Homo sapiens: one gene and its partners. The protein of the gene in region 3 interacts with the protein of the main gene of each other region in a biochemical or structural test. Each region holds a gene or a part of one and is shown on either strand. Other genes may lie near its edges. The genes, in order: RAB7A, USP10 and SNX3.

What was found.
Region 1: the proteins of SNX3 (region 3) and RAB7A form a complex in vitro, tested with the Homo sapiens proteins (one study listed by BioGRID).
Region 2: the proteins of SNX3 (region 3) and USP10 form a complex in vitro, tested with the Homo sapiens proteins (one study listed by BioGRID).

Annotation. Positions count from the first base shown.
Region 1 is NC_000003.12:128,788,791-128,799,182, forward strand, and holds part of RAB7A (ras-related protein Rab-7a), read left to right. Parts: intron 1-6,569; 5' UTR 6,570-6,577; coding exon 6,578-6,630; intron 6,631-9,152; coding exon 9,153-9,279; intron 9,280-10,050; exon of another isoform or gene 10,051-10,392.
Region 2 is NC_000016.10:84,703,000-84,711,730, forward strand, and holds part of USP10 (ubiquitin carboxyl-terminal hydrolase 10), read left to right. Parts: intron 1-1,740; exon of another isoform or gene 1,741-1,828; coding exon of another isoform or gene 1,829-1,861; intron 1,862-8,731. UniProt on the Homo sapiens protein: Hydrolase that can remove conjugated ubiquitin from target proteins such as p53/TP53, RPS2/us5, RPS3/us3, RPS10/eS10, BECN1, SNX3 and CFTR.
Region 3 is NC_000006.12:108,248,929-108,259,320, reverse strand, and holds part of SNX3 (sorting nexin-3), read left to right. Parts: intron 1-10,392. UniProt on the Homo sapiens protein: Phosphoinositide-binding protein required for multivesicular body formation. Specifically binds phosphatidylinositol 3-phosphate (PtdIns(P3)).

The DNA of each region.
Region 1 (10,392 bases), on a different chromosome or scaffold from region 3:
TCTTTCTGACCACCGACCTCTGCCCACCCAAGCCCTTGAACAATATTTTTCTTGATCTTTTTACCTGCTCATGTTTCCTTATTTTGTCTGCTTATGTGGCCATTTGGCTTTTCTGTGGCATAGATGAAGAAGGTGATGACTGCAGGCGAATAAAGGAAGATGCCAGCTTTTGATTTGTTATGAGAAACATTGTACTTGAAAGAAAGAATTGTTTCATCGTTCAAATACTGGTACCAATACTGGTAGTTTCGCTCTGAGGAGCTTCTTCCGATGCACACTGGTGAGGTTTGGTTTGGTGGCAGAAGGAAAGAAATGTGTTATGAATATACCTTATTCTAGAAAATTTTTAGAGGATATTAATATATACATGGATTAATGGATGTTATCTAAAATGCTTTCCTTGAAGGACCAGGTCTCAGAGATCTTATGTAACTCTTTCTTCCTTTCTACTCTGCTGGCTGCAGATTCTCCTGTGAGAGGAAGTGGTCGGTGCTTTAGAGAACTGTTTTCCAGTTAGAAATTTCAAACTTTGTAGCCTTTTTTTTTTTTTTTTTTTTAAATCTTTGACTTCATTTCGCTCTGTTGCCCAGGCTGGAGCGCAGTGATGCGATCTCGGCTCACTGCAACCTCTGCCTCCTGGGTTCAAGTGATTCTCCTGCCTCAGCCTCCCGAGTAGTTATTACAGGTGTGTTTCACCACACCCAGCTAATTTTTGTATTTTCAGTAGAGATGGGTTTTTACCATGTTGGCCAGGCTGGTCTCGAACTCTTGACCTCAAGTGATCTGCCCGCCTCAGCCTCTCAGAGTGCTGGGATTACAGGCATGAGTCACCCATGCCTGGCCATAGGCTTTTAAAAAATAATTTCAGTCTTCAGAAATCCATGAAGATGGAAATAGAAATTGATAACAAAAGCAGAAATTGCTTTTGGACATTTTGAAGCTAACTCTGCTTGGGCAGCTTCTTGTAGCAAAAGTTGCATTTAGTGTGTTTTGTTCCTGGCTTTTTTTTTTTTTTTTGAGATGGAGTTTCACTCTTGTTGCCCATGCTAGAGTGCAGTGGTGTGATCTCGGCTCACTGCAGCCTCCACCTTCCAGGTTCAAGCGATTCTCCTGCCTCAGCCTCCCAAGTAGCTGAGATTACAAGCGCGTGCCACCACGCGCAGCTTAATTTTTGTATTTTTAGTATAGCTGGTGTTTCACCATGTTGGCCAGGATGGATTTGTCAGTCTCTTGACCTCGTGATCCACCTACCTCAGCCTCCCAAAATGCTGGGATTACAGGCATGAGCCACCACGCCTGGCCCCTGGCTCTTTTCTAGAAACAAGTGTCCCATTCTTGATCTGGGAGAACATTAAGTACAAAAATATACCTTTTAACTTTTGCCAGTTTAAAGCCATCAATGTCCTGGTGAAAGAAGATGTGGAATTCTTAGTATCAGCTGTTTAGTACCATTTGCAACAACTCTGAAATGCTTAGCCAGCCCTGAGTGAAGATGAAAATCTGCATTTAAATGTAATTTGTCTTACATGATGAGTGGAGATTTTTGTCATCAGAAATTGATTTGAAAAAATCAACAGATTAACATTTTTCTCCAAAGTGGAGGTGGCTGTTTGAGTGTAAAGGTAATGTGCTCCTCTAAGAGTCACAGTTAAGTATAAGGAAACAAAAACATCTGTAATCCCACCACATGGAACAACTTGCTAATATTTGTGTATATTCCTTTCTGCTTCATGTGTAACCATTTTTACATTTAAATCTTTACTCCTTTGGGAATCTCTTGGAAGAGGAGATGTAGAGATCTTAATTCTCACCAAAATTTTTCTGGCTCTTACCATTTAGTGAATTGTTCATCTTTTTGCCACTGAATTTTATAATGCCATATTTGTCAAAATTGTTCATTTCTGGTGTCTGTTTCATTGATCGGTTTAGTCCTATTCCAGCACCCCACTGTTAATACTGTATTTTTATAACATGCTTTTCAAGACTGTAAAGGCAAGTCTCTTGTCATTTGTGTTTTAGGGGAAGGGACATTTCTTGTGTATTTATTTATTTTTATGAATAAAAACGGGATTGTTTATATTAAATGCTCCCCAGCCTCCCCTTCCCACCTCAAAAACAACAACAACAACAACAACCCTGGACTTGTTTAAATAGGAGAGAATGCATGAATGCAAGTCTTTACATTAAGGCTCCCATAGACTGTTTATTCAAATTCTTTTTTTCTCTGTAAAATTATTTTTCTCATTTAGGTCCTGTACTCGTGCTAACCACTGTAATAGTGATTGTTGTATAAATGGGAAAAATCTTTCAGGAAAGTGAATTAGCAAAAATCATGAAAACTTCTTCATGTTTTGTTTGTTTTTTTTTTTAAAGACAATTTTGCTCTTGTTGCCCAGGCTGGAGTGCGGTGGTGTGATCTCAGCTCACTGAAACCTCCGCCTCCTGAGTTCAAGCGATTCTCCTGCTTCAGCCTTTTTGGTAGCTGGGATTAGTTGCCCACCACCACGACCAGCTAATTTTTTGTATTTTTGGTAGAGACAGAGTTTTCCCATGTTGGCCAGGCTGGTCTCGAACTCCTGGCCTCAGGTGATTCACCTTCCTTGGCCTCCCAAAGTGCTGGGATTATAGGCGTGAGCCACCGCGCCTGGCCAAAACTTTGCTCTGGACTCAGAAATCCCATCCCTAAACAGAATCTGTGAGTTACAGTTGACAAAATCCTTTCCTTGCATGAGAATTTGACTTTTGTTTAACTTTCTAGCTCTGTTTCCCTGGGAGCTAGATAAGGCAGAACATAACATTTGTTTCTGGGCATGGTCCTTGTGGTAAAATGTCCCCTGGTTGGTAAATTACATTTGGATGGGAAAGAGCCATGGATAAGTGATGGGCCACCCAGGCTTTTGTTTCATGGAACACAGTGACTCTGCTGGGCATGTCCTTATGGGGAGCCTAAGGAGCTGTCAAAAGAGATACTTGCACCCCCAGGATTGAGCATTCTGAGTCAAGGTATTGAGTCGGCACAGTCTCCCTGTGCCTGAGCCATCTTCTGTATGGACTCTTGCAAGAACTGCTGCTGCTGATGACCTGCCACTGCCCTGCCTGCCAGCTTTGTCTGTCCCAGTCTTTCTCAGTGGGCTTGTGCCACATGTGGCCTGTGATAATCTTACGAGTCAGAATCTAGAAAGATCTACCCACCCATCAACCCTCACACAGGTGTTGCTGTATCTCAAGGAAGTAATCCCATAGATTACAGCATTTTTTCCAAATTTTTGTTATATTAAATAAAGAGCGGGAATGGCTATTTAAATGCTTAATTCACTCAGAGGAATATTAGACATTAAGACGTAAGGTGGTCTCACGGTCACTGCTTTGTGACACGTGTGGGTAGAGACTCAAAGGGAAGGAAACAAACATGAATTCTATCATGTAGGAGTCTGGAGGTTGAAGTGTATTTCCTGTTTTTTTTCTTTTTAATATTATTAAACAGCATTGGTACACCAGTGAAACCTATTAACAAAGCAAGTTATGCAAATCCCTTTTCCCATTCTTAAAATCAGTCACTTTCATAAATATTCTCCAAATATCTTTGCATATCCTTTTATCATCTTTTTATCTATTTTCTTTTTTTTTCCTTTTTGAAAAAGAGTCTTGCTCTGTCGCCCAGGCTGGAGTGCAGTGGTGTGATCTCAGCTCACTGCAACCTCTGCCTCCTGGATTTAATCGATTCTCCTGCCTCCGCCTCCCGAGTAGCTGGGACTACAGGTGCGCACCACCACACCCAGCTATTTTTTTGTGTATTTAGTAGAGATGGAGTTTCACTATGTTGGCCAGGGTGGTCTTGAACTGCTGACCTCAAGTGATCCACCTGCCTCGGCCTCCCAAAGTGCTGGCATTACAGGTGTGAGCCACCACACCCAGCCTTTTTTTCCCTTCCCCACCACTCACTGCAACCTCTGCCTCCTGGGTTCAAGCGATTCTCCTGCCTCAGTCTCCCGAATAGCTGGAATTACAGGCACCCACCGAGCTAATTTTTATTTATTTATTTATTTATTTATTTATTTATTTATTTATTTATTCATTTGAGACAGTGCCTCGCACTGTCACCCAGGCTGGAGTGCAGTGGCGTGATCTCGGCTCACTGCAACCTCCGCCTCCCGGGTTCAAACGATTCTCCTGCCTCAGCCTCCTGAGTAGCTGGGATTACAGGCGCGTGCCACCATGCCCAGCTAATTTTGTTTTGTTTTTTGTTTTTTTGAGACGGAGTCTCGCTCTGTCGCCTAGGCTGGAGTGCAGTGGCGCAATCTCGGCTCACTGCAACCTCCACCTCCCGGGTTCAAGCCATTCTCCAGCCTCAGCCTCCTGAGTAGCTGGGACTACAGGCACATGCCACCACGCCCAGCTAATTTTTCATATTTAGTAGAGACGGGGTTTCACCGTGTTAGCCAGGCTGGTCTCGATCTCCTGATCTCATGATCCGCCCGCCTTGGCCTCCCAAAGTGCTAGGATTACAGGTATGAGCCACTGTGCCCAGCAATTTTTGTATTTTTAGTAGAGACAGGGTTTCATCATGTTAGCCAGGCTGGTCTTGAACTCCTGACCTTGTGATCCACCCACCTCGGGCCTCCCAAAGTGCCGTTATTACAAGCATGAGCCACCGTGCCCAGCCTTTTCTATTTTTAGTAGAGACGGGGTTTCACCATGTTGGCCAGGCTGGTCTCGAACTCCTGACCTCATGATTTGCCTACCTTGGCCTCCCCTTCTTTCTATTTGAAACTTGCCCCCATTATCATCATCTGATCTCTATCTTGAAATATGATACCAGACCTTAGAGTGTGACATTTAAACTTTGACCAGTCAAAGCGGTCCCTGGGGAGAAAGGTAGGGGAATAGTGGGGCTCCACATATAATGGATAGTTTGGGGTATACCTCTCAGTGCTGATTATGATGGAAGACAGAACTCCAAGTCATCTTATACTGCCCCTAACTAGCACTAGTAAGAACTTTCTAGATGAATGCTGGTGGGCTGAGATACCGTGTCTTCACAGTCCAGCCATGGGCATGAGGCTTTTGGCAGAGAAACAGCTTGACCCTCTGCATAGGTCATGGGACCTGGGGTGTGTGCCTAGCAAACCATCCTCTAGTCTGGCTCCTATTCCCATACTGTTCTTGTAGCCAGAAACAGACTCTGAAGCCATCGAGGATGGTTACTTTCAAGAGCGTAGGCCTTCTTAGCAAATCCTGCCCTTTAGGACAGTAGTCAGGTCTGATATTTCCTTTTAGTTAGTGGTCTTGGGTGTAATACCACCTCTTGAGAAAGAGAACAATTGACAGCCAAGCATCTGGAAAGAGAGGGATAGCTGGATTACCTTGCCTAGGAGCTGTAACCTGCTGCTTCTCTCACTGTCTTCTGGACTCTGTGTTCTGTTACTCATCTCTGTATTTGGCATACCTTAAGATGGTAGCGGCCAGTATTTACTAGTCATCTGCTGTATTCTAGTTACTGTCCTGAGCATTTTATTTATTCAGTCTTCACAGCATTCTTAGGACATAAGAGCTGTCATCTCTATATTCCCTATTCCAACAGAGAAATTAAATGACTGGCTCAAGGTCATATAGCTAAATTAATAAGCGGCAAAACCAGAATAGAAATCCCTGTGGCCTGGGTTCATATCTGCTGCTTAAGTCACTCCCACTATAGGCACTGCTGTCAGCCTTGCCTTCAAAAGGTAGGTGGTTAAAGAGGAAACTAACAAGTAGTTCTTCTGAGTCCCATTCATTTTCTGGAAGTCACTGAGTCATACCCTGGCAAATGAGAGGCAATTACAGCAGGAGCCCTGTCTTGATGAGTAGATAGACCATGCTGTGGCAAGTCCTGGAAGACAGTTGAGCAGAGATCAGGCATTTTTCACATCTTCTGGTTATGAGTAGACAAGGCTGCCTGAAAGATTTTCTGGAAAAGAGTAGTCACTAGAGCTGCAGAGTCAAGTATTCAGACGGTACCCAACATTTAATAAATTTCTACTTGGCATTGAGTATACAGTGGGGAGTAAAACTGTCTTCATGGAGATTGTTAGAAAAGGGATAGACTAGATTAATATAGTACATAAAAATGTCAATTAGTGGTAAGTGCTCTGAAGGAAAAGCAAGCAGAGTAACGGGATAGAGAGCAAATGAGGGGTTATGCTGCTTTAAATAAAGCGGTCACTTCTTTGAGAAAGTGATACTGAAGCAGCGACCTGAATGAAGCAAGGACCAAGCTGTTGAGTAAGTTGGAGCATTAGTTCAAATTGCCAATCCATTCAATTGATCCACCACCCAAGTGAGAGAATACATTCTCTCCAACAGCTTGCAGGGGCAGGATGGCCCTGCTGTGCTGTTCTGCCTCGCTCTTGGGTCCAGAGTTTTGGTGAGTGATACTGTTTTTTATCAGTGCCCCCTGGTGGAAGGAAGATACCTAGCAGGAAGGTTCAGGGCCCTGCACTGTTGGGGCTGCTCAGACATTTGTGCAAGGGAGGTGTTTTGTTTTGGTGTTTCCATCACACTCACAGTGATTTCTCCTTTTCCCCCTTTAGTTTGAAGGATGACCTCTAGGAAGAAAGTGTTGCTGAAGGTTATCATCCTGGGAGATTCTGGGTAAGTTACTCATGAATTTGAGCTAACAGATTGGCTTAGAGCTAAGCCTCTCTGCTGTGGAGCCCACACTGTCCGTGCTGCCACTTCTTGCTTTCATAGTGAGGCTTAGGGCCTTACATGTTTCCCTCCACGGCAGAAATTTAGATGATCCCTTGTTATATAACCTTTTGTTCTCTAGTTTTTAGCATGATTTTTTATGGGGAACGGATGGCTATTTGAACTCAACTAAGGATAGGCATTTTCATGGAATCCCTTTTCTCCAAGCTGGCCAGGCTGGGGAGTCTTCCTTACGTAGATGTATTGCCATTGGCATCTGGCGTAGCAGATGTGCTTTTTTTTTTTTTTTTTGGAGACAGAGTCTCGCTCTGTCGCCCAGGCTGGAGTGCAGTGGCGCGATCTCGGCTCACTGCAAGCTCCGCCTCCCGGATTCACGCCATTCTCCTGCCTCAGCCTCCCGAGGAGCTGGGACTACAGGCGCCCGCCACCACGCCCGGCTAGTTTTTTGTATTTTTGGTAGAGATGGGGTTTCACCGTGTTAGCCAGGATGGTCTTGATCTCCTGACCTCGTGATCCGCCTGCCTCGGCCTCCCAAAGTGCTGGGATTACAGGCGTGAGCCACCGCGCCCGACCCAGATGTGCGTTCTTAGTGCACCATACAGTATCCTCCTGCTGCTGTGCCTGCTTCAGATCTATCTGCAAAAGAGCCTGGGACGGCAGAACTGGGTTCTGATTCTAGATGTGCCACTAACCATGTAGCTAACTCTAATGGCTCTTAAGATTCTGTGGTAGGTTGGGTGAGGTGGCTTATGCCCATAATCCCAGTGCTTTGGAGGCTGAGGGGAGGATTGCTTGAGCCCAGGAGTTGGAGACCTGTCTCTACAAAAAAAATTTAGCCAGGTGCCGTACCTGTAGTTCCAGCTGCTGGGGAGGCCGAGGCGAGAGGATGGCTTGAGCCCAGGAGTTTGAGGCTGTAGCAAGCTATGATCATGCCGTTGCACTGCAGCCCGAGTGACAGAGCAAGACCCCAACTCTTAAAATAAAAAGATTCTGTGGTAGGCTTTTCAGACTTGGCATCTGAAGGGACCCATGAAAGCTTTGACTCATTGGAAGCTTATGTATTTTTAAAAATAACAACAATAGCAAATGCAGGTATGCTTCTTTATTCCAAAGTCCCCTGCCCTTCCTTTGAAAAGCCAGAGGTTTTTCTGTCTTGACTGGCTTATTTGAATCACCTGCAGAACCTTTTTTTGTATGTGTGTGAGAGACAGGGTCTCGCTCTGTTGCCCAGACTAAAGTGAATGGTGCAATCACAGCTCACTGCAGCCTCAACCTCCTGGTCTTAAGCCATCCTCCCACCTCAGCCTCCAGAGTAGCTGGGACCACCAGTGTGTGCTACCACTCCTGGTTAAATTTTTGTATTTTTTATAGAGACAGGGTTCTACCATGTTGCCCAGGCTGGTCTCAAACTCCTGGGCTCAAGCAGTCCACTCGTCTCGACCTCCCAAAGTGCTGAGATTACAGGCTTGAGCCACCATGCCCAGCCTTTGAAGAACCTTTTGTTCGCTAGCATTTGCCCAGCCCCAGACCAGTGGGCTAGGGCCTAGATTTGTGCTCTCTCTCCTACCCCGCAACTCCATCCCCGTCGGGATGGAAAGATAGTGCTTTTAGGCCTGCCTTCCCCAAACTTGTGCAAAAAGTCTCACCAAGCCCTTGTTCGATTCCAGGTTTTGCCACCTCTCACCTTGTAGATTCTGGCTTAGATGGTCTGGGTTGGAAAACACTGCCTTCGGCTGTCTAGGTACCTCCAGGTTCTTTAACACAAATATGAACATGTTCCTTTGTGGCCAAGAAAGGTGATATCACTGGCTATGGGGGGGAAGGTTTTTGTATTAGCTTTAGGTTACCTTAACCTTATCACACAAAAATCACACATTGTCTCTTGCTGAGTTTTCTTACTAGAAAACATATTTGGAGGAGCATTCTTTGAGGTGGATTTGTTTTGGTGATATATTGGTGCTTTTTCTGCTTCAGATTTTAAACTTTAAAGCAGCAAATTGTCTGAGTGGTGTGTGTCTGCTGAAAGCCAAGGTCTTCCTCCTGGTGTTACTTCATCAAGCTAAATAGCAGCCACTAAATGGAGAAACATCTAAGATAGCAGGGATACTGTTGGAATAGCAGAACAGTCTTAATAGTGAAGCTTCTTTTAGAAAGCAGTATATTTGCTGGCATCCTTCTAGAATGGAAAAAATAATACTAGGCTCTACCATTTGACCTGGCTGTGCCAAAACATGTAAGCAGCTTTTCCACATCTGCCCCACATCTGTACCCTATATTTTTACCCAGAGAGAAAACACAAAACTTCAAAAGTGTAATGCTCGGAAGGCTACTGGCATTGCCCTTTGCTGTGAGGGCAGTTTCTTGTCCTTCAGGTCAGGCAGATTCTTTTAAATGCTTCAAGTAATTCGTGTCAGTTTCAGGACCCTCCTATTTGACTTATACTTATGGTTTTTCTCCAATTTCAGAGTCGGGAAGACATCACTCATGAACCAGTATGTGAATAAGAAATTCAGCAATCAGTACAAAGCCACAATAGGAGCTGACTTTCTGACCAAGGAGGTGATGGTGGATGACAGGCTAGTCACAATGCAGGTAAGCACATGTCTTGGCTGTGCTGACCAGGCCTTGATAGTTCATTTAGTCTTAATCTTTCCTCATGCATAGACATTTTCCTTCCCTGTTCTTCAAATCTTATTATCTTATTTGTAGATAATTGGCTGATACTCAGTTAAATTTGAATTTCAGATCAATAGTGAATACTTTTTTAGTATACTTCTAGTGTATCTCAGATACGACTTGCTAAGACACACTAAAAAATTCTTCTTAAAAAAAAACTCAGATTTATCCTTTCTTGTTTTTTGTTGTTTTTGGTTTTGTTGTTTGCTAAATTTGGCAACCTGCAGGTCTCTGTCTTGTGCCTCTCTTGACATCCTTGCCCAGTGCTTTAGGTAAACATCTTTGTCTCACCTCAGTAGTGAGACATAAACTTTATTTTTCTGACTTCCTATTTCATACGTAACTTCAAGAGTTGTGTGTCTATTGAGCCAATCTTTTTTTTATGTATCAGCTTATTAATCTTTCAAGGGTTCCCTTTCAACAGTTAGGATAAGATACAGATTCTTTCATATGACTTGTTGAAAAGCCTTCACATTCTGGCTATAAACTATTATTCCCTTTTTTTCCCCCATTGAGTCATTTTGTTTGTATACATGTATTAACATCCCTAGAAAAGAAACCCCTGAAGGATGGATACCTTGAGCCCAGGAGTTTGAGCCTGCAGTGAGCTGTGACTGCTCCATTATACTCCAGCCTGGGTGATGGAGTGAGACCCTGTCTCTAAATTTAAAAAAAAAAAAAAAAAAAAAAAAGAATCCCAGGATTTTCCCTCCTGTATTTTCATCTCTTTCTTCATGGTCCATGATGCCAGCTGAGGTTGTCAGTACAACCTCACTTTGAAACCAAACTATTGGGATAGGAGTAGATTATCCTGTCATTTTTCTAGATCTTTGAGTTGCACATCACATCTGGGGCCAATCATTCCAGGGGCAGTTTTAACCTGCCTGTGAGGTTTACAGTAATTTTCCCAGCTCTGTGATGACCAGTGATTTCAAATTTTCAATGTGATCATGTTTCATCTTCACACTTAGAACCAGACCATGACTTGGGAGCACAGCCTAATAAGAACCTGGTGTTTGCCCTTGAGAG
Region 2 (8,731 bases), on a different chromosome or scaffold from region 3:
AAAAAAAAAAAAAAGAGCGAAACTCCATCTCAAAATAAATAAAAAAGTTTATAGGTTAATAACCTTATTTCCAAATATTAGAAAGTGTTGGTTGATCCCTGTTACCTGTATTGAAGTGTAATAGTGAAGAATTTGGAAACATTTTGAGACCGGTAACTCAGCATTTTAGCAAAGACAAATAAATGAACTTTAACAGTTGAAGTGTAGGTCCAAGTGAATATCCTTGTCACTGAGGGGACCGGTTAAATTATTTGGGGTAATTAATTTGAAGCTATTAGTTTTGCCTTACACCGAAAAAATATTTGTGATTATTGATGTCATTTATAGTGAAATCTCCACAATAATGCTTCCTACACCCAATTTGAATGTCATGCAGTTGGCTTCTGTCCTTGTCTCTGCATAGACTCACCCCAGTCTCTTTTTTAGCTTGTAATAGCAGATCCTCCACATTTTACATGATGGAAAGTCTTGGATTCCCCCTCTAGCATATGGCTGAATGTTACTGTATTGCTGAATATCTGTTTCTAGCCAACAGCTGGATTAGTGTTAATTCTTAAAAGAGATACATTTTTATTAGAATCTCAAGTAATGAGCAGCTGAAGTAAATACAATTGTTTGAAATGTTGACAGGGCATTTGGAGATAACAGTTTTCCTTTGCATAGTGACAGCAAGCTATTTAAACATGTCCTAAGAGTAGATGTTTTAAGTTTGTGAGCCAGTGGTCACCTTAGTGGTTTGTACAGATGGCCTGAGAAGTTTGTGAGCCAGTGGTCGCCTTAGTGGTTTGTACAGATGGCCTGAGCAGCCGCGCCGTACCAGGACCTCACCATCATGCTCTTGAGCCCATCTCATTGAGAGCACAGCGCACTGAAATTCCAGTGAATACTAAGCGGGCCTACCACATTCTAAATTCCTCACTAAAGCAAAAGTTAGGACATGTATTCCAGTGTTCTGTTACGTGGAACTGATAGGATTTAAGCAGTGATTCACATAGGAAAACTTAAAGGAGAAAAGGATTACGAAGCTTAATGATTGCTGTTTAATGCCAAGCCTAAGCGGCACGTTGCACTGTGCTGTGCTCAGAATATAACATTCAAGTAATTGAGAAAAGTGGTATCATCTCCAATTGAATTAGTTACATCAGGGTTTTTGTTTCGGTTTTTTGTTTGTTTGTTTGTTTTTAAAGATATAATTTCAGACATGTAGGTACTTCCTGTTAATGGTTCCTGGTATTCAGGTGGCACATTAAACGTGGTTGCTGAGGACACTTATTACTGGTACTATACCAAAATATGAAACGTAGTGGGAAGAGCTTGCTTTTGAATTTGTAATTAGGCTGTTACTTTTCTATTTACTGCCACACATGCAAGAATCACCATCGCACAAAACAGATAAATCTGTTTGCAATGGAATTTGCTGGCCTTGGGCCATTGGATTACTGTCATTTGTCACTTTAGTGCCACTTCAGCAGTGTAGATGTTCATTTCCAGAGACTTGTATGTGCTTGGACTGCAGTTTTCCTGTTTATTGAAGTGTTCTCCCAAAAGGTCTTTCTTTGACCATTTCTGTCAATACAGGCTGGATGAAGAATTAGTGTAGGAAAATAAAGGTAGCCCTTGGGGTATGTGTATAGTATTTGTTTCAAGGATCAGAAAATGTAGAATTTATCATAAACCTCGATGTAGAATCTTCAGATCCTAGATTTTTTCTGAACTGGCTATTTTCTGGCTATTTGAAAGCTCCTGGGCCATGATCCCATTTTCATCAGATGACTTGAGAACCCAGAAGCTCTACCAGCACTGCCATTCTGTCCCGTCTTGAAACATCATGCCCTGGTTGCCCTCTCCTGGAATAGGGCAGGTAAGGTGTTGAGATAGAAATGTGGTTTGGGGCTGTTACAGCCTGAATTCCTCGACTTTCCCTTTTGGGCTCACATGAGAATTGTTAGGAGAATGTGCATGTGGAGTGCGGGCCCAGCACCTGCTACCGTCTGCGCTGTAATGGTGGCTGCTCCTAAGAGTCCTCAGTCTCCTCCCCGTTGGGCTTGTGTGTACAGCCTTATCGGTTGTCATTCTTCGGATCCATTCTCAGTTTATTTTTCTGGTATTAGCTGGAGGGACATCTCCTTAAGCCTGTACTCTATGGCTCAGGAGTCTCAAAACCAGTCCATTTTGAAGTGAGAGTATCCCTAATAAAAAGGTGAGTGTCCCCACTCCTGTGCCTTGTTTTTTTTGTTTGTTTTTTTTTTTGAGACGGAGTCTCGCTCTGTCGCCCAGGCTGGAGTGCATTGGCGGTATCTTGTCTCACTGCAACTTCTGCCTCCCGGGTTCAAGTGATTCTCCTGCCTCAGCCTCCTGAGTAGCTGGGACTACAGGCACCCGCCACCATGCCCAGCTAATTGTTTGTATTTTTAGTAGAGACTGGGTTTCACCATGTTAGCCAGGATGGTCTCCATCTCCTGACCTCACGATCCGCCCACCTCGGCCTCCCAAAGTGCTGGGATTATAGGCGTGAGCCACCACACCCAGCCACTCCTGTGCCTTTTGAACCTGATTTTTACATCTAGCTGACTCCTCCCTCCGTCCCTTTCCCTCTTTCTTTCTTCCTGATCTGATGGTGCTAGATTTTTGTTTTCCCATTTGTCTTTGTTTTATGAAGATGTGCTCCTTTCCATTTGTGTATGTTGAGTACAGACATAATCATGCCCTTGCTTGCTTTTTTTTTTTTTTTTTTTTTTTTGAGACAGTCTTGCTCTGTTGCCCAGGCTGGAATGCAGTGGTGCGATCTGGGTTCACTGCAGCCTCTACCTCCCAGATTCAAGCGATTCTCCTGCCTCAGTCTCTCAAGTAGCTGGGATTACAGGTGCCTGCTACCACGCCCAGCTAATTTTTTTGTATTTTTAGTAGAAACGGGGTTTCACCATGTTAGTCAGGCTGGTGTGGAACTCCTCACCTCAGGTGATCCACCTACCTTGGCCTCCCAAAGTGCTGGGATTACAGGCATGAGCCACTGCCCCCAGCATCCCTACTCATTCTTTGAAAAAAACAATTTGTTGTTGTTTTGTAGAGACAGGGATTTGCTGTGTTTCCCAGGCTGGTCTTGAACTCCTGGCCTCAAGGGATCCCTTCTGCTTCAGCTTCCTAAAGTACTGGGATTACAGGTGTGAGCCACCGCGCCTAGCCTCCCTATTCATTCTGCAAGTATCAGTCTTTTTACTTTTGATAGGACATGTTGAAGTTTTGGTTAAAAATAGAAGAGGATTTGAAAATGAAGTTCAATTCTAGAGGTTTTCGAGATTCCTGCCCAATATAAAAAACTTCTGATACATTAAAACAATTTTTTTATACTTCATTTTTTAGAGCAGTTTTAGGTTCACAGCAAAATTGAGAGAAAAGTACAAAGAGTTCCTATATACCCCTTCTCTTGGTATTTTAAGTAATAATTTCCCTTACGTGGCTGCAAAGACTATATATATATTTATATGTATTTATTTGTATATGTATTTATATTTATTTATATTTTTATATTTATATATATTTTTATATATATATATTTTTTGAGACGAAGTCTTCCTCTGTCACCCAGGCTGGAGTGCAGTGGCGCAATCTCGGCTCACTGCAAGCTCCGCCTCCCGGGTTCACGCCATTCTCCTGCCTCAGCCTCCGGAGTAGCTGGGAATACAGGTGTGCGCCACCACGCCCAGCTAATTTTTTGTATTTTTAGTAGAGACGGGGTTTCACGGTGTTAGCCAGGATGGTCTCCATCTCCTGACCTCGGGATCTGCCCACCTCGGCCTCCCAGAGTGCTGGGATTACAGGCGTGAGCCACCGCGCCGGGCCAAGACTATATATATATTTATTCAAGACCTGAAGTAGGCTTTCTGGGTAGATCTGATCATTGGAGAAGGAGAAACATATTTATTACGAGATACTAAGCATTGTAGTAGTCATCATTTGAAGCCTATAAACTCTATAAACTGCATAGTTTAGAAAGTGCCTTAGCTTGTTTGAGCCTTTACAGCAACTCTGTCCTGTATTATTATAACCATTTTACAGATGAGTAAGATAAGACCCAGAGAGGTTGTGGCTTGAGGTCAAATGGCTGCTGGCCATCAGGACCTTTTAAAAGCAGGTGTTTTGACTTCTAAATCCTTTGCTTTTTCTACTTTGCCAGACTGGTTTTCTGGAAGAGACTGATGAAGGCATAATCTTTCACACTGTGACTTCCCCTTAGTAGTTCCTCCATAAACATTTACAGAATGAATGAATGAAATGTGCATTTAGAAACTTTAATGTTACTAATTACAAAATTTGTTACTATAATATGTTACTATTCACTAAAGTTTGTGTGGGGTACATTTTAATAAAGTCGTTTATTTTATTTTCTAGTATAAAGACATGCTATTTTTAAGACACGAAAACAGCACAGACGTATTTAAAGTGAAAAGTAGAAGTCATTCCCTTCCTCTCTGATCCTTAATCGTCAGTTTGGTGTGTGTCTTCTATGCTTTTTTCCACTGGAGTATTTTGTTGTTGTTGTTCCGTTGTTTCATAATATGGTCTGTTGTATCTAGTCACTGAACTTTATTGAGCAAACCTTGTTTTCAAAATTATTGAAAACATCCACTGAAGTCAGTTTTCTTAGGTTTACCTAATTTTGCCAGGGAATGAAGCAGATATTCTGGAGATTGAAGTGACTTATCAGGATCCAGTGTGCAGGGGATTGTGGAAGTGCTGCCACAACTTATAACATGTTGTCCAAACAATTTTTTTTTTTCTTAAGAAATATTTTGGGCCAGGTGCAGTGAGTGACTCACGCCTGTAATCCCAGCACTTTGGGAGGCTGAGGCAGGCGAATCACTCAAGCTCAGGAGTTTGGGACCAGCCTGGGCAACGTAGCAAAACTCTTTCTCTACAAAAATACAAAAATTCACTGGGCATGGTGGTGCTCTCCTGTAGTCCCACCTACTTGGGAGGTTGAGGTGGGAGGATCGCTTGAACCTGGGAGGTGGACATTGTAGTGAGTCGAGATTGTGCCACTGCACTTCAGCTTGGGTGACAGAGCGAGACTCTTACGTCAAAAAAGAAAAGATAAGAAATATTTTGAAGACTTCCACCCCCTTAGTAGTAGTCATGCTGTCCGGTGTTCATAGTGTAAAAAGAGGTCTGGCTGGGCGTGGTGGCTCACGCGTGTAATCCCAGCACTTTGGGAGGTCGAGGTGGGTGGATCACCTGAGGTCAGGAGTTTGAGACCATCCTGGCCAACATGGTAAAACCTCATCTCTGCTAAAAATACAAAAATTAGCCGAGTGTGGTGGCGGGCACCTTTAATCCCAGCTGCTCCGAAGGCTGAGGCAGGAGAATAGCTTGAACCCGTGGGGGCAGAGGTTGCTGTGAGACAAGATCACGCCACTTCACTCCAGCCTGGACGAAAGAGTGAAACTCCATCTCAAAAAACAAAAAAGGAGGTCTGATTCACATTCAGATTCTTGTCCATCCATTGCCTTTGCACTAGATTTATGAGAGGACAAACTTTTTATTAGTTGGAGATTGGTAAGTCACCTGCCCTAGGGAATAATGAGAAACTGGGTAATTCACCTGAATTTTTCTCCATCTTCTTCAAAATCATGTTTTTGTCTTCTGTCACTTTGTTTCATCAGAGTACTGCAATGGCAAAAAACAAAACACTTCCCAACTCAGGTCCCACTCCTGAGAGATAACCACATTTAAGTACTTCTGACTTGTAATAGAATGCAAAATCGGGGCTTCCAAGTGTGGTTTACTATTTTGTTTAGAATTAATTTGTAGAATACTAGACACTTTTTTCAGAACCACATATGAAGGACTTTATATCTTTTGTGATTGTTCACAGATTTTGGTGGCCGGACGTTAGGAGTATAGAGCTGAAGAGAGAATTCCTGTGCTTTAGAGGTTCGCTGGGTAGTGAGGGAGAGAAGCAGGCTAATGGCTGGGTGCATCCAGTTTTAGGGTGGTAATTCCTGTAACACAAGTGTGAACAACATAGTCAAGAACATTCATTCATTCGTTTGTTCATTCATTCAGCAAATAGTTACCGAGTGGCTGCTGTGTACCAGGCACTGAGGAGGGAGTGATGAGCGAAAACAGGCATTGTTTCTCTCGCGGAGGAGTTTATGGGTCCATTGAGGAAGACAGCTTGCTAATCAGATAATCACAGTTACGTACACGTCACTCCAAACTGAGAGATGTTTCCCAAAGGAAGGGAACACAATCTGAAGTCAGAGAACCGTTCCCGTGGAAGTGACGTGTTTACAGCATGAGACAGTGGGGACAGCATGTGTGGTGGACCTTTGGCTGGAGGGAATTTGGAGCACTTTGGAGAACTCAGCAAGGAGTTGTGTGTCTTGGGCACAGAGCTGGAGGGGAGGGACAGACGCACCATCCAACCTTGCAGCCTTTGTTAGATGTTACTGTCTTTATTCTGAGAAAAGTGTGGAAGAGGGGGTGGTACAACATTTGACCATGGAACCTCATAATCACATTGCCTTTTGGGATCATACTCTGCCCAGTGAAGAATAGACTCACGGGGTCGCAGTGGCCATAAGGAGATCATTTAGGGCAGGGTCCTTGGACTTTTGACTCGGAGGGTGCCGTGGAGGTGGAGAGAAGTTGCGTGACTCAGGAGTTAGGTATAAGGTGTTTCAAAAAAGGAGGAGAGTGGGACTGAATGTTGGGCAAAGCTGGGAAGACGTCTCTTGTAGAACGGTGACATTTGAGCTGGAGTTTTTCAGGCAGAGAAGCACACGGACAAGGGCATGTGGAGGAGACTGTGCAGAGGAACTGTCTCAAAGCCTGCAGCCTGTTTGGGAAACAGATAAATTTGTGGCTGAAATGGTGTGTAGGGTGAAGTGGTTAGCCGGGAGTCTGGAGAGGAGAGAGAAAGAATTTGGTAATCCAAGCTCAGGACTGAGTGAAGTTGGTAGCAACTCTGTGTTAAGATAGCTGGTTGAGGCCGGGTGCGAGGCTCACGCCTGTAATCCCAGCACTTTGGGAGACCGAAGTAGACGGATCACTTGAGGTAAGGAGTTTGAGACCAGTCTGGCCAACATGCTGAAACCCCATCTCTACTAAAAATACAAAAATTAGCCGGGCGTGGTGGCGCATGTCTGTAATCCCAGCTACTTGAGAGGCTTAGGCAAGAGAATCGCTTGAACCCGGGAGGCAGAGGTTGCAGTGAGCCAGACTGTGCCACTGCACTCTAGCCTGGGCAACAGAGCAGACTCCATCTCGGAAAAAAAAAAAAAAAAAAGATTGCTGGGTTGAGTTGATTGTGCAGGGGTCTTACTTAGATGCTTCGAAAGTTGTCAGGGATTTGATTCTTTAGGCTCTCCTCCATAGCTGGGACTCTACTCTCTGCTCATTTTGGCATCTTAAGCCTCATAACTTTGAGGGGAAAGAAGTAGGGCATTTCTTTTGGGGACTTTTGAGACAGATTAATGTGAGGCAGGTAGCCCTTCAGTGTCCTCAGTGGTAATTGGATAGAGTAGTTAGGGAAGGTCATTTAGGGACATATTCCCTTTATTTTGAGGGGGAGGCACCTTTAAAAACAAGCATCTGTCCCTTGATTATATTCGTAGAAAATATTAAGGAAAACTTAGGTGACTTGTTACCTTATTTTAAATGTTTCCTGTAGTACTTTTGGTAGTAAACTTTAGAAATTTGGAATCATTGGATTTAACAGCGTTTTTAGGTTTGTGATCCTCGAGTGCCCTCTTCTAATACCAGAATCACCTGGCACCCTGGGTGCCACCAAGAGACACTGAGTAAGGATCCCTGTGAGCAGGTCCCCAGGCCGTCTGAGCCAGGCTCAGGTTGCAGGTCGTCCGCATGGGTTTGTGTACAGCTTTTTTTGTTTTAACTTGTTGAGCCCTTTCGCATGAATAGCAATAACGAAATCGTATTTTGGACAAAGTGTTACATCTCCAGTCTAGGTTAGGCGTGAACAACAACAAAAATATGAATTGTGCCCCTCCCTCTGAGTGTGATACTCACTTATTTTAGCGCCGAGTGGAATGGTGGAACAGTTGTGAGCAGATGAGAAACCTGACATTTTGCCACTTTGAAGAGCTGTCATGTCGTGTCTTCAGAACGAGATTTCAGTTTGGCTTGGCATTCATTAAGTCCATGATTATGCCTTTTAAGCAAGCATTTACCCAGTACTTGCTCTGTGCCAGGGCCCGTGTTGGGATTTATAAGTTGCAAAAAAACATGTTTTTAAAAATGTAAGTACACATGTGTTCCCCAGAACCTTAAGAGCTGCTCTGGCTGTTGCTCTGCACCCCACATCTTGAAATAGGACCTTTGTGGACAGCATGGGATCAGCACACTCCCCCACAGCTCAGTGTAACTGTGAGCATCTGATGTCCCAGAGAACTGGAACTTTATAATTCATCCTGAAGCCTGGTTGTCAACATCTCTGAGGATGTGTGCATAGCATTAAGCCAATTTACCATCGGGAATTCCTGCTCTCTTTTGCTGTTGTTGCTCATGGATTCGTCAGGTGAGGAAATTCTAGTCTCTAGTTTTTCCCAAACTGGTGCTGAAATAATTACGCTTGGTTCTCTGTTGCTTCTTACCTCTTTGCTCTTCTGTGCCACAACAATGTATTCTAAGTTAGGTGCCAGCAGCAGAAACTTTTCTTCCACCTATAACTAGAGTTTTAGGCGTGAGGAAGGGCTAGCTTTTTTTTTTT
Region 3 (10,392 bases):
CAGAGGTTGCCGTGAGCCTAGATCGGGCCATTGCACTCCAGCCTGGGCAACAAGAGCAAAATCCCTTCTCTAAATAAATAAATAAAAATTGAATCATAGGATATGTTGTCATAGGGAAACTGCAAAATCCAGACTTCAGTACACCTGGGGAACTACATTCATACATAAACCTAGTGGAAAAGTGAATGTTTTTCTAATTGTCTGTAATACATGACAGATGGTTCACTAAAAAGAACTTCCTCTTTTGCCCTATTCACTAGTATTTTCTTTTTTTTTCTTTCTTGTGCTAAAACAGAACTTGGTATTCTTGTTTCTATACTTCCATAGCAGGTACTTCCTGTCACAAAACTGAATTGGAATCTCCTGCCTACACTTCCTCCACTTACTTTGAGTTTATCTTGCTGAATGCATTATATTAAATGGGTTCTAGTATAATAATTTAATCCTCTTTTTTTTTTAATACACCTAATACCTTAGCAAATAGCTGATGTGACACTTAAAAATGGTTTCTGGGCCTGGCGCAGTGGCTCATGCCTCTAGTCCCAGCACTTTGGGAGGCTGAGGCAGGTGGATCCCTTGAGCTCAGAAGTTTGAGACCAGCCTGGGCAACACGTTGAAACCCCTTCCCCACAAAAAAAGAAATTAGTTGGGCGTGGTGGCGCGCATCCCTGAGGTCCCAGCTACTCCAGAGGCTGAGGTGGGAGGATCACTTGAGCCCAGGAGGTCGAGGCTGCAGAGAGCTATGATGAGGCCACTCTACTCAAGCCGGCATAACAGAATGAGACCCTATCTCAGGAGAGAGAGAAAAAAGGGTTTTGGTATAGTCATTTACATGTTAAAGAAAATTTTTTTTTTTTTTTTTTGAGACGGAGTCTCGCTCTGTTGCCCAGGCTGCAGTGCAGCGGCGCTATTTTGGCTCACAGCAACCTCCGCCTCCCAGGTTCAAGTGATTCTCCTGCCTCAGCCTCCTGAGTAGCTGGGATTACAGGCATGCGCCACCACGCCTGGCTAATTTTTGTATTTTTAGTAGAGATGGGATTTCACTGTGTTGGTCAGGCTGGTCTTGAACTCCTGACCTCGTGATCCACCTGCCTTGGCCTCCCAAAGTGCTGGGATTACAGGCATGAGCCACCGCGCCTGGCCTGAAAATAATCTTTTTTAAGAACGATTAATGAGTCAGGGAACTAACAAATTATACACTTACTTTGGTTTGTATTTTTGTATAAACCAACTCACTGGGTGTTAATAGCTGTTAACAGTCATAAATGCCAGTGCCTATGTGAAAACCTAATTGAGTTTTTAATGCATGAAATGACTTTGGATTTCTTTCTTTTTTTATTTTTATTTTTATTCTTTTTGAGACAGAGCCTTGCTCTGTCGCCAGGCTGGAGTGCAGTGGCGCGATCTTGGCTCACTGCAACCTCTGCCTTCCGAGTTCAAGCGATTCTCCTGCCTCAGCCGCCCAAGTAGCTGGGACTACAGGCACGCGCCACCACGCCCAGCTAATTTTTGTATTTTTAGTGGAGACGGGGTTTCACCATGTTGACCAGGATGGTCTCAGTCCCTTGACCTCATGATCTGCCTACCTTGGCCTCCCAAAGTGCTGAGATTACAGGCGTGAGCCACCATGCCCAGCCTGGATTTCTTTTAGTATGTAATGTGTTAACTTAAAACTAAGGACACCATATAGTAAGGAAATTAGGCCTTATTTGAGCAGCATATGATTTTTTAGAGTAATTATAGTCTTGCATTAAGGCAGAGTGGCTATGACATGAATAGTTTAATATTTTGTAATTTTTTTCTTCTTGAGATAAGAGTCTCGTTCTGTAGCCCAGGCTGGAACACAGTGGCATGATTGTGGCTCACTGCATTCTCAAACTCGAGGACTCAAGTATTCCCCCCGCCTCAGCCTCCCAAGTAGCTGGACTACAGGGTACTACTATACCTGGCTAATTTTTTATTTTTTGTCAGATGAGACTTGCTATGTTGCCCATGATGGTCTTGAACTCCTGGCCTCAAGTGGCCCTCCCCCTCTCAGTCTCCCAAAGTGTTGGAATTACAGGCATGAGCCACCTCACCCAGCCCTGCAATTTTATTTATTATTTTCTAAATGTTGCTGCTCTCCCGAACCCCTACTGACTACCTTTTGCTGTTGAATTTGCTATGTGGAAAACCATTTTATGTTCCAGAATTTGGGCTTTTAAACTATCTTACAGTTACTGTCTCATTCTGGTCTTGAGAAAAATTTACAGTTTTACAGGATCTGATTGAAATTACTCTAATTCACAGGGCAATTTTATATGGATGGTGGCACTTAGAATGCAAGTTTCCCAATCTCCATTTATCTTTTGGTTTGAGGATAGTGTTTAAGACTATTAGGATCACTTGATTAGTATCTCTGGGCTTTTGAAAATAATTACACAGTGTTATGTTTTTAAAAATTGTTCTAATGGGTAGGTACAGCAGAGAGCACCATAAATGATTAAAGGTTTAGGAAAGTTCAAGGTCTGGAATTATTTAGGCATATTCAAGAGAAGGCTGAAAGCAAAATTCAGTCACTGTTTATGAAGTTTGTGCTGTAATATAACTTTAATATTCTGGAGATTTTTAAGTTAATCAAGATCTATTTTACCTGGAGACCACTGTTTTGAACAGGAATGGAATTAGAATCTTTCTTGAGCTCTGACATAGTCCTCAGTTCAAAGAATAGATTTAACATTTCCTAGCTGGGTAAGATACAAAATCAAAGCTCCACTTCCCCTCTGTGAAATAGGTGTGCTAATAATAGTACCTACCTCTTAGGACTAAATGGGATAAGGCACATGAATCTTTCTAGCACAGTGCCTGGCACATAATAAGCACGCAAAATTTAGCTCTTTCTAAAGATAGACATTTTCTAAATTAAACGTCAGTGATCAACTACATTTTCTGTGTGTTAATGTTTAGTTGAGTTACTAAAATTGTTAGATTTTCTTGTCAAGAAACCTACTTGTCATGGAAGTATACCTTCATTAAGCAAGCATGGTATAAAAATAAGCTATCTTATTTGGTACTTAACCAAGTAACCTTTGTGTATGTATTTATTTTTTCGAGACAGGGTCTCCCTCTGTCTCTCAGCCTAGAGTGCAGTGGTGCAGTCACAGCTCACTGAAGCCTTGACCTCCCAGGCTCAAGTGATCCTCCCAACCTCAGCCTCTCTACTAGCTGGGACCACAGGCGCATACCACCACACCCAGCTAATTTTTAAATTATTTGTAGAGACGAGATCTCACTATGTTGCCCAGGCTGCTCTTGAACTCCTGGGCTCAAGTGATACTCCCACCTCAGCCTCCAAAACTGCTAGGATTATAGGTGTGAGCCACCATGCCAGGCTCCAAATAATCTTTTAAAGTTGAGCTTTATTAAAGCATAAAGCTGAATAATAACGTTGGCTGATAAAAATTTTGACAAGGTGCTAAATAAATGTAGCATCTTATCTTGACAGTGCTTGCCGTTCTAAACTTGTATATGTTTTTTCCTCTGGGTCAGTCATCTAATCTTAAATTAGGAGTCATTAATATCCAGATTGGAAGCTGAGAAATAAATTTTAAAATCTTAGACTTATTTTTGGGAATTATAAACATGTATTATTGAAGGGCTAAAATATTAATAGTATTTTAAAGAATCGGGGGGTCGGGCACGGTGGCTCCTGTATGTAATCCCAGCACTTGGGAGGCCAAGGTGGGAGGACTACTTGAGCTCAGGCGTTGCCACACAGCCTGGGCAACGCAGTGAGACCCTGTCCCTACAAAAATTTAAAAATTAGCCAGGCATGGTGGCGTGTGCCTGTAGTCCCAGCTATGTGGGAGGCTGAAGTGGGAGGATTTCTTGAGCCCAGGAGGAGGTCAACACTGCAGTGAGCCACGATCATACCACCGCACTCTAACCTGGGTGACACAGTGAGACCCTGCCTCTAAAAAAAGCAAAGCAAAGAAAAAAAAATCAGGGCATTTTGATGCCAGAGGACATCTGCAGAATCTATGTAGCTCTATCAATTGGCCAATGAGATGTTGTCTGTTACACATGTTGCTGCCAGCTACGGCTGACTTTTCCAGGATCTCCATCAAGGAGAAGCATGCTATTAGCAGTGAAGATTCTGTCCTTATCTAATCCATCCCCAGAATGGAGAGTGGGGGAGGAAGACAGTGGCTATTTTAAAGTAGTCCTGTTATATTGAGTTTTTAGGGATTCTGTTCTGTTAAGGGATGTATCATTTGAGTATCTTTTATGTGCAAAGCACTGTGCTCTATCTATAAAATTTAATCTTGAGGTAACCAAGCAGAGTAGATAATATTCCTGTAGAAGCTGATCAACTGATCCTCATCTCTTGTCCTTTCCTCATTTTAACTCCAGTCCTGAACTGGTATCTCCCAATTAAGCTGAGTTCTTTTGTATCCAGGCCTTTTGCACACACTTCCTCCTCTGTTAAGAACAGGCTTCCTTTAAGAGCCTCATCTGGTTACTATCACTTATCCTGCAGGACTCAGCCTTAATGTCCCCTTTTTAAAGATTTTGCTGATCCCTTGACTCTGGACCAGATTTCCTTCCTGTGTGCCCTGGTAGCTTTGTTAGGAATAAATTTGTTTGCTTGTCTTTGGCTTCCTGTAAGTTCCTGTGTCACCCATTATAAGCTCTTAGAGGACAGGGACTGTCATAATCACCCTTACTCAATATCCAACACTGCTTGGCACATAGTGGACACTTACAAATAAATGAAGTTTAAGAAAGTTAACTTCCCCAGGGTCACAGCTATTAAATGGTAAAACTGGGATTTGAACCTAGATTTTCGGACCTTCAGAGCCCGTACTTTTGTTTGAGACAGGGTCTCACTCTGTTGCCCAAGCTAGAGTGCACGGTGGTGCAATCTGGGCTCATTGTAGCCTCGACCTCCTGGGCTCAGGCAACCCTCCCAACCTTCGCCTCCTGAGTAATTGGGGCTACAGGAGCACGCCACTATGCCTGGCTAATTTTTTTGTATTTGTAGAGACAGGGTTTCTCCATGTTGCCCAGGCTTGTCTCAGACAAGGTTTTACCATGGTTGCCCAGAGCCCTCACAGAAAATTCATATCACCTGAGGAGCCTTTGAAACCATTCAGGTTCTCTTTTACTGGGGTGGGGTGGGGTTTGGGCAGTGGCGGTTTTTTTTTTTTTCTTTGAGACGGAATCTCACTCTGTCACCCAGGCTGGAGTGAGGTGGTGCAATCTCAGCTCACTGCAAGTTCCACCTCCTGGGTTCATGCCATTCTCCTCCCTCAGCCTCCCGAGTAGCTGGGACTACAGGTGCCTGCCACCACGCCTGGCTAATTTTTTTTGTGTTTTCAGTAGAGATGGTGTTTCACCTTGTTAGCCAGGATGGTCTCCATCTCCTGACCTCGTGATCCACCCACCTCGGCCTCCCAAAGTGCTGGAATTACAGGCGTGAGCCACCAAGCCCGGCCGGCAGTGGTGGTTTAAAAAGCATCCCAGTAAGGGCACTTATATGCAGCAAGGATTTCTCCTGCTGCTTATCATGCTATCTGTCTCACTGAGATAGATAGACAGTAGAGAAGGAAGAGAAATATACATAGAACCACAATGGTTGGTAGCTTTGATGGGATTAAAAAAATAGATTCTAAAATAGTAAAACATAAAATGAATAGCAGATCTTGGCAACAGAGAGGAAAACCAGTGACATTTGTCAAAGATAGAAAACTTTTTGGAGGGGAGGCATTTAAATATTAACTGAAAGCATACCAATCTCTACAGCTTAAGTTTTTGGGAGGAAGGGGAGACACAGACTACATTCAATCAAGCCAGATCTTTTTGCCCTTGTCTTGCATCATCCATGTCTATATCCCTGTATAATAATCATGAAAGTAAGCCAGAAGTAAAAAAAAAAAAAAAAAAAAGACATATGTATTCATTTAAGAAAGGAATTTTTTGGAGACAGGTTCTCGCTGTGTTGTCCAGGCTGGTCTTGAACTCCTGGGCTCAAGTGAGCCTCCTACCTCAGCCAAGTAGTTGGGATTACTGTTGCATGCCATCAAGCATGCCTCAAAAAAGGAATCTTTATAAATATTGTCACTTTATACCTGTAAAGGGGAAAATCTAAAAAAGTGCTTTGAGCTATCCTGGTGATCACATGCAATAGACATTTTCCTCTCCTGCTCACCTTTATCATCATGCTTATCTCACCCCTTCCAGAAAGTAGTAGACTGTTATTATTAGATACTTTGATGTTTGTACCATGTTATGCTGCTTTCATGTAAATAGAGCCAGCAATTTCTTGAACATCAGATAAGAAAGATGGTGTCCAAAAAAATCTTGGAACTGCTATTTTCTTTTTTCCAGAAGTTTATTCTTAGGGCCGGGTGTGGTGGCTCATGCCTGTAATCCCAGCGCTTTGGGAGGCTGAGGCGGGTGGATCCCTCGAGATCAGGAGTTCGAGACCAGCCTGACCAACATGGCAAAACCCCATATCTACTAAAATACAAAAATTAGCCAGTGTGGTGGTGCATGCCTATAATCCCAGCTACTCAGGGGGCTGAGGCACAAAGATTGCGTGAACCTTGGAGGCAGAGGTTGCGGTGGGTGGCAGCGCGACTCTGTGCCAAAAAAAAAGAGAAAAAGAGAAAAAAAGTTTATTCTTAAATGTGCAACAGGCTCCAAGACATTTCATCCTTTGCTTCCTAGAGTGGAAGCAGAAGATTTTATAGTAGGAAATGCAGATATTTAAATAGGAATGGGATCAAGGGTCATCATTGCCTCGGACACAGTGGTTTGTTTTTTGGTTTTTGTTCTTGTTTTCCAGATTTCTCCCTTCTAAGTACTAACCAGGCCCAACCCCGCTTAGCTTCTGAGATCAGACGAGCAATTGCATTCAGGATAGAATGGCCATAGACTTTTGCCGGATTTCTTAATTCCACCTATCCAGGGAACCCTTCCCTGTGGCCTTTGCTTTTAGCTCCTCAAGTTTTTTCTGCTCCTCTTCTTGTTTCTGCTTGAAATCCTTGTCTTCCTCATACATCTCCTTGGCCTGTTTCTCGTCAGGGGCTTCTTGCCGTAGGTGCCTGTCAGGAAGCTGGACGTGGTGCCTGCCATCCCTTCCTTAGACCCAGCACAGGAAACTGGAACTGCAGTTTACTGTTTTGATTCCTTAGTTAAAAGACAAAGCTTTCAACCAAAGTTCTACTTCATTTTTTTGTTTGTTTGTTTGTTTTATTTATTTATTTATTTTTGAGACAGTCTCTCACCCTGTTGCCCAGGCTGGAGTGCAATAGTGCAGTCTCAGCTTACTGCAGCCTCTGCCTCCCTGGTTCAAGCAATTCTCATGCTTCAGCCTCCCAAGTAGCTGGGAATATATAGGTCGTGCACCACCATGCCTGGCTAATTTTTGTATTTTTAGTAAAGATGGGGTTTCATCGTGTTGCCCAGGCTGGTCTCGAACTCCTGGCCTCAAGTGATATGCCCACTTCAGCCTCCCAAAATACAGGCATGAGCCACCGCGCCTGGCCACTACTTCTTTAAAGAAATATTTAACTGACAACCTAGGAATTTGGAATGTGTTAGTAAAATGTGACGTTTGCTATAGCTTGCCAGAAAGGTTGTATCAGGTAGTATAGAGTTTGGGCTGTTCTCAGATAAAGAGGATAATTTTTTGTTTTTTTGGTTTTTTTCTCCACATGGAGAGGTTTCAGGTACAGTCCAGGGTTAGTATTGTGGCTTGACTATCAGCTTCTAACATCATATTCACATTCTAGCCAAGGGGAATGTTTATTTCTGCCCTTGAAGGACACAACCAGGAAGTCGTATTATTTCTGTTTCTGCGCATTGCTGTACTTAGCTACAAAAGAAGCTGGGAAATTTAACCAGGTGGCCATGTGAAGAAGGGAAGAGTAGACACTGTTCTTTGCTTTGCCACATTAACAAATGGTTGTGGTTGGCCCTTCTAGGATATGGCTTTAAGCTACACTGTGATCATCTGTTATTTCCTTTTTTTGCTAATGCCTGGAATTTCAGTTTAGAGTAAGTTCATTTGATTTGCAAGAAATAAAATTGTACTTTCATTAGTTTGGAAGTCTTAAGTGAGTAAGTTTTGATTCTTTCATGATAATTAATTTTGTTAAGTTGAGAAAAAAGGCAAGCATGAAGACATGGCATATCTGATAGGGGTATACCTTGAGATTGGGCTAGAGATTCTAAAGGTAGTTGATTAACCTTTTTTTTTTTCCTTCCAAGGCTGCTTAAAACTATTTTGGTTTTACTTAGGACCACCATTGTAGTTGCTGACATTGAATGATGGAGTATATAATTTGAGCCACCAAAATAAATGAAGCCAGTGTCTCTTGGCAGAGAATCACTTAATCTCTTAGCAGAGAAGTAGAGAATTACTTAAAATAATTTTGTAAAGTTACTTTGTGTCCAGCAGTATTGGAATGGTCATTTGATAATTATTTGTTCTGTAAACTTTGATTTTATCACTGATGGAGCATTTCTTTTGGCTTTCCTAAAGTTATTTTAGCACCTGCCACCTATAGCTTGTTTGCTTTCCGTTTTTTCTAGTCCTGCCCTTGTGGGATGAAGTTCTCTGTTGTATAAGTCTCGTCCATATTGAGAAACAGAGGAGTCTCAAAGCCCCTCCTTGTGTCTGGTCTTGGTATCTCACCCCTCTCTTGTCTTGACTTTACTGGTTATCTTCAAGTGGAAACAAGTAGAGAAAAATCTTGTCAGCTAGGCATGTATGTGTATATCACCAGGTCTTGTCTTAAATTTACACCCAAAGATTCCCCCATGGTATATAACTGAGGACATTCTTAGGACACTGAGGAGTTTAAATAGAGCAAGGGTTGGCAAATTATGGGCTTACCTTTTTTTATAAATAAAGTTTTATTGGAACACAGCATACCCATTTCTTCCCATATTATCTAAGACCACTTTTACTCTATAAGGGCAGAACTGAGTAGTTGAAACAGTATGTTTACTATCTTGCCCTTTAAGAAAAGGTTTGCCAATTTTATGTCTAGAGTTTGCTCATGTAACATTGAAATAATGGAAATCAAAAGGCACTTGGAGAATCTATTATCAAAACATGAGGCCGGGCATGGTGGCTCACTCCTGTAATTCCAGCACTTTGGGAGTCTGAGGTGGGTGGATCACTTGAGGTCAGGAGTTCAAGACCAGCCTGACCAACATGGCAAAACCCTGTCTCTACTAGAAATACAAAAATTAGCCAGCTGTGGTGGCGTGCCCCTCTAGTCCCAGCTACTCAGGAACCTGAGGTGGGAGCATCACTTGAACCCTGGGGGCGGAGGTTACAGTGAGCCAAGATCACACCACTGCACTCCAGCCTGTGTGACAGAATGGAACCCTGTCTCAAACCCTAAAAAATATCATGAGGCTATGGAAAAAGCATTCATTTAGGAAGCCAGTAGTAAACGACTGAGGAAATAGTCATTAAATATAACACTGCACATTCATCAAATAATAAGATCTTAATGCATAACCCTATTGTTGGGTGGTGAATGAAATATTAGATACCATTCTTTCCTCCTAGAGGCCCAGTTTTACATAGAAATTGTAACTTTGTGTTGTCATCCCACTGATAATATTAAGGCCAGGCACAAGGTTTTTCAACTTTTGAAGTTTATTTTCTCACTCGAAACCTTTTATGTAAACTCCTTTGAATACCCACATAAAGGAAAGAAAGTTGGTGCTGATAAACTAGTGGGCAGCAGGTTCATGGTGGTTCAGGGTCGGTCAGCAAACCAGTGCCAACACTGAAGATGATGCCAAACAAAATTGACTGCAATCTGTTCTAGCCAGGATCATGGTTTAGATATTTTCTAGCCAGAATTAATTAATTTATTATTTTTTTCTTTTTTTGAGACAGAGTCTCGCTCTGTTGCCAGGCTGGAGTGCAGTGGTGCGATCTCGGCTCACTGCAACCTCCACTTCCCAGGTTCAAGCAATTCTCCTGCTTCAGCCTACCAAGTAGCTGGGATTACAGGCACGTGCCACCATGCCCAGCTAATTTTTGTATAATTAATTAATTTCTCATACAGTATCATCATTTAATGATTTGTGGGGTTTTGTGTGTGTATGTGTTTTAAGAGACAGAATCTCACTACATTGCCCAGGTTGGTCTTGAGCTCGTGAGCTCAAGTGATCCTCTTATCTGCCTCAGTCTTCTGAGTAGCTGGTACTACAGATGTGAGCCATTACACCTGTCTTAATGTTTTGTATTCTTACATGTTAACCCCCTATGTAATATGGCAATGTGCAGTTGTATAAATAATTTTTAATAATATTTAAGTTGGTATTGGTTGAACTATTAACATAGGTAAGTCCTTTCTACAAACTCTGTCTCTCTTGTCT